Linked DNA regions of Homo sapiens: region 2 is linked to region 1. Evidence: fine-mapped expression QTL. A gene starts in region 1. The other region holds a variant in brackets. All regions are shown on one strand. Distances are from middle to middle.

Region 1 (2,830 bases):
CTGATGGCCCATACGTTCCCAGATATCTCCACCCCATCATGCTCTTAAAAGCTGAAGCTGACTTAGTGAGAATCCATTTACACTAAACAGTGTAGAGTAAGACAACACAAGCCAAGCCCATGACTGAAGGGAGCCCACAAAGACTGGGCAGCTCCTCCAATGTAACCGAAGATTCAACCAAAGATTCTAACTGCCCTCCAGCCCCAGGGCTACGGAATGGCCCAGGGAAGGCAGCGTGCAGCTCGCAACTAATAATCCAGGTACAACCAGCAGATCAAAAGCATCCAGTGAGTGGCTCTGCCAAGTCCCTGTCCATAAAAGGTCCATAGCACAATCACTATGTTTTGCTCCATTTTGTAAGCCCAGCTAAAAGGAGAAAAATTCAATCATTTTTCCTAAAGATTGCTGGTTGCGAAAGACCAACTCCTTTTAAGCGTCTATGCACCAAATCTGTAAGATACAGATATTGGGAGAAGGGGCTCCATACCTGTTCAGAGCAGAGATAAACAGTTGGCATTCACTGGTATAGAGCAATTGTCACAACAGTCATTAGGAAGCTGAACAAATGTTGAGAAATCCAAATGTATCCATTCAGAATGGTGCAAAATTCCTATAAAGTCCTACATCAGAAAATGAAAGAAAGACATTTGGGTGAAGGTAATCAAAATGTCTGGCTAACTCTTGCCTTTTCCTGATATATGTTTTCCATAATAGACCCCACTAGCACCTTGATCCTCTACCTTAAAGATGGAAACGGCTTGGCAGAGGTTGTGTTACTAGGCAAGGTCTTGCTACAATTGAAAGGATGCCACCAGAGATGAAAACCCTACATACATCTCTGCCACCAAAAGAAGACTTTGGAATCAGGCATGATGCAACCAAAGATTCTTACTGCCCTCCAGCCCCAGGGCTGCGGAGTGACCCAGGGAAGGCAAGATGCAGCACACAGCTAATAATCCACATGTAACCAGCACACCAAAAGCATCCAGTGAGTGAGTTAAAACCATGCTTCTATCTATCCCCCAGGAGTGGACAGACAAGTCTGCCTAGATTTGAGGCGGGGAAAAGAGGTCTAAATTTTCACAAGAATTAACTTCTTTTTCCTACAAAGAGACAATGAGGTGTTTCTCCTCTTACCTCATGGATTGCTGGAGTAAATGTAGAAACAAAAACTCATTTTCTTGGTCTCCAAGAAAGCAACCAGATTCTCGATGTGAGCAAGTCCCTGCACCTTTGATGCAAGAGTTTGGATATGCTAGGTGAGGGTACCCGAGGCCCTGTTGATTTTATGAGTCTGTGGGCCAGCTCAGACCGGCTGCCAACTCATCTGTATGCAACAGTTCTCAAAGAACATAGTTTACTTTATAACCGGATCCAACAAGAGTAGGCGTGGCAGTTAAGTGAGTGAGATACCAAAGGTGTTGAGCTACCAAGGCTAACTAAGAAGGATTTGTTTATGGAACCCTGGCTTGGAACCAGAAGGCCGGTATGCTCATGTCGATGTGTCTAAGTCAAAGGCATGAAGTTGAACACGTGCGCACATGAGGCTGGATGTTACAGGGCAGGGAAGTAGGGGTCCCCAAGGAGCCCCTCACAAATGTCTCCTGTCCTGTGAATCACTCAGTGGCCCTAGAACAGCAGTCCCCAACCTTTTTGGCACCAGGGACCAGTTTCATGGGAGACATTTTTTCCATGGACCAGGGAGGTGGTGGGGGAGGATGGTTTCGAGATGATTCAAACACATGACATTTATTGTGAACTTTGTTTCTACTGTGTTTACTTATAATAATTACTTTACTTCTATTATATTCTATTATATTCCTTATTTCATTATATATTATATTCTAATATATAATGAAATAATATTCTATTACATTATATAATATTCTATTCTATTCTATAATATTATAGAATGAAATAATGAATATGGGATGAAATAATGAAATATTCTATTCTATTATAGAAGGAAATAATATTCTATTCTATTCTATGAAATAATATTCTATTATATTCCTTATTTCATTATGTATTATATTCTAATATATAATATAATATATATTATGTATTATATTCTAATATATTATATAACATATATTATGTATTATATTCTAATATACTCTATAACATATATTCTGTATTATATTCTAATATATTATATAACATATATTCTGTATTATATTCTAATATATTATATAACATATATTCTGTATTATATTCTAATATATAATATATATTCTGTATTATATTCTAATATATAATATATATTATGTATTATATTCTAATATATAATATATATTCTGTATTATATTCTAATATATAATATAATATATATTATGTATTATATTCTAATATATTATATAACATATATTACGTATTATATTCTAATATGTTATATAATATATATTACGTATTATATTCTAATATATTATATAACATATATTACGTATTATATTCTAATATATTATATAACATATATTACGTATTATATTCTAATATATTATATAACATATATTACGTATTATATTCTAATATATTATATAACATATATTACGTATTATATTCTAAATATTATATAACATATATTACATATTATATTCTAAATATTATATAACATATATTACGTATTATATTCTAATATATCATATAATATATATTATGTATTATATTCTAATATATAATGAAATAATTATACAACACCACCATAATGTCGAATCAGTGGGAGCCCTGAGCTTGTTTTCTTGCAACTAGACAGTCCCATCTGGGGGTGATGGGAGACAGTGACAGATCATCAGGCGTTAGATTCTCATAAGGAGCGCACAGCCTAGATCCC
Region 2 (2,830 bases), 58 kb before region 1:
TGCTTGTAGTAAAACAGGGCGTTGACTTTCTAGCTGGGCTCAGTTCCACTATCTGACCCAAAGTCTGCCTCCTGGAATTTCCACTCAAGCTTTTCCTTCTGGAGAAGCCTTCCTCCTGCTTCCTCCGAAATCCTTTGCATATCTGAAGACAGCTGCTGTGCCCAAGCCCCAGCTCCTCTCTCTATCTTCTTATGTGATGCAGCTGAGATGAAGTTCTGAACAAGTCATTTGCTTTGGGGTAGGCAAACATTGTTCCCCATCTCCACAGAAGGCAGAGCAAGAGAAAATCAACTGACATTTCACCTGGAAGGTTAAGAAAAAATTTGCTGACTGTGGATCATAAGTCAGATGTAGAGAGTTTTAAAGACTGTCCAATAACAACAAAATTATGCATTAGTCATCACCTGCCAAAAATAATTATCATATTAATGATGTGGATGAGAAAAGATGGTCTCAATGGGCTTAAGGACTTTTGAAGGTAATTTATGGTTCTAAGTAGAAACCCAAAAATCATAGTGATATTTTTAAAACTGCAATTATAGTTGAAAAATAGCAAAATTTTACAAAATACATGACAATTTTGCCAAGTCGAGACCCAGCTCTCTACCATGATTTCCTCAACTAACAAAAAAGGAGATAAACCTCTCACCTAAACCAGTATTGCAAAGACTTTTTCATGGCTAAATAAACACATACGTTTTGAGGAAAGTGAGATTTTAAGAATAGTCATTTTATAGCTAAAATGTACACTCTGGTTTGTGCTGACATTTCTGGCTTGTGTGACATTTCAAATCACAGAGTGTTATACTAGAAGAAAACTGAGGAATCCAGTAGCCCAACCCACTCATTTGTCAGATGAGAAAACTGATTCCCAGAAATTGTCCAACAAGTTATTTGTTTATCACATAGCTGCTGCTAAAACCCAGGCTGCTTGGTTTCTAGGCATGTGTTTTTCATGCTACATTTAAAAAAAAAAACAGATTAATAATGTTGTTAGTATTAGGTAGAGTTATTAAAGACCAGTAACCATGAGACCTGCTTTAAGCCCATGGAGTCAGCTGTCCGTTGTATCATTGAATATTATCCAGTTCCTTTCCAAATGTTTTCTTTGTTTTGCTTTGGGTAATGACAACATAATCTGCACATTTTAGATGCCAAAATAAGAAAAAGTAATCCTGTTCCTATTCTTTGTTCTTTCTGTAATTATTGAGATGAAGACCACAAATGTCATCAAGATCTTTGAGATCTGCAAATAAAAGCAGTAAAGTTTTCTGAAATCAGTCTTTCCTGTGATCTTGAAATAAAAGTATAAACCCTTATGGTTTTCTTATGGTTGGTACGGTTGTCATATTTTTTAAAAACACTGAAGCAAATTTCCTTTTTTATTTCCTTAGATCCGTATCAGATCCTGGGCCCGACCAGCAGTCGCCTAGCCAACCCTGGTGAGTTTACCTTGGCCTGCAAGCCTTTTTTGCCAGAATGTTTCGTAGCTTTGTGAAATCACAGAGACTTCTGTCCTAAGTCCAGACACCTGAGTGGGGAGTAACATGCAC[G/C]TCTTTCCTTGAAATGTTCAATGTCTGTTTCTGGAGCATGTGAACAACAGGTCAGGGCTTGTTATGAGGTGTCAAGGTTGGTTAGCTGAGGATACTTCTAGGAATAAACACATCAGCACTGCACATGTGCACTTAGGTGTAGATGAGTAATAAGTGGCACAGGTAGGTAGGCGTTTCAATCAGAGAAAATGGGCAAGAAAGAAAAGAAGACAACTCCACTCAGCTCTCAGTTGTCTCCCGCATGCCAGGCACAAGTTCATAAATATTCCAAAGGGTTTTATTTGTGATTTTAGAAAGTGTTGCCAAGTTATCTGGCCTTATAAAAGAGATGTGTCCTGGAAAAGTTGCAGATATAGTCAATTTGACCTTGTACTTTAAAGATTTAGTATCAAAAATAACTCTCAAGAGGGTCCTTCTAAACCAAGTCCATCGAGATTGGGAGCTAGCAGGCCCTTGTCGCAGTGTGGCCCACTCACCTTCCCATCCCAGGGACTCTGCCTACCCATTCCTTAGTGCCTGGTCATTACTGCCAGAGGAGAAAGCAGCCACCCAGCATATTCTGGGTATTTTTCTCTCTGCACAAGTTCTCTGTAGAACTTAGAGCTGCAAGCCAAGCTCTGGGCCTGCCAAGGGCCAATCCAGGTCCTGTCCATCCAAAAGCTAAAGCTCATGGCGCAGCTTCTCCCAATGACTCCCACAGTCATGCCTTGCCCCTGACTTTTTATTGCTGACAGGGAATTCCCTGGGGGACATGACCACTAATTAGAGATCAGTCAGTGATTCAGGCCTTTCTAGATGAAGAGATTCAAAAGCCTTGCCAAAGGGATTGAGGGGGGATATGGCTCACCCAAGATCACACAGCTAGTTCTGGGCAGAGTTTGCACCTCACTTCCCACATTCCATTTACCAGGCCTTGGGGCAAAGCATCTTAGGATCTAACCTCGCTTATTATACCCATCTCCAAGGCAAGCAGAAAGGCAAATCAACAATGACATAAGAAGGGCTTGTCAAGTCGATCCCAATGTCGAAGGAAACAAAAGGTTTCTTTAAAAGGATGAGAAGCTCCCTGCATTTAGGGAACTGGGTTCTGCCTTCTCTGGGCTGAGGTGTTCTGTTCTCTCCCGTTTGCCTCACGGCGTGCAGGAAGCGGGCAGATCCAGCTGTGGCAATTCCTCCTGGAGCTGCTCTCCGACAGCGCCAACGCCAGCTGTATCACCTGGGAGGGGACCAACGGGGAGTTCAAAATGACGGACCCCGATGAGGTGGCCAGGCGCTGG

Which allele goes with the higher level. Alleles are on the strand shown, and positions count from the first base shown. SD is a standard deviation of normalised expression in the study named.
For the expression in spleen of the gene that starts at base 1,261 in region 1, allele C in region 2 goes with a lower level than allele G (small effect, 0.38 SD a copy in GTEx).

The links. PIP is the estimated chance that this variant, and not a neighbour inherited with it, causes the effect.
Region 2: its variant is the best candidate, but not a certain one, in a credible set for the expression of KCNJ1 in spleen (GTEx, PIP 0.78).

The regions. Positions count from the first base shown.
Region 1 is chr11:128,866,036-128,868,865 of GRCh38, forward strand. KCNJ1 (potassium inwardly rectifying channel subfamily J member 1) reads right to left here and starts at 1,261. Exons shown (of 3, transcript NM_153766.3): 1 at 1,138-1,261. LOC107984409 (a long non-coding RNA gene) reads left to right here. Exons shown (of 3, transcript XR_001748442.2): 3 at 715-1,144.
Region 2 is chr11:128,807,763-128,810,592 of GRCh38, forward strand. FLI1 (Fli-1 proto-oncogene, ETS transcription factor) reads left to right here. Exons shown (of 9, transcript NM_002017.5): 8 at 1,395-1,442; 9 at 2,697-2,830. Among named protein-coding and RNA genes, the nearest start is that of KCNJ1, 58 kb to the right of the region's middle. The variant G/C (reference allele first, on the strand shown) is at 1,554.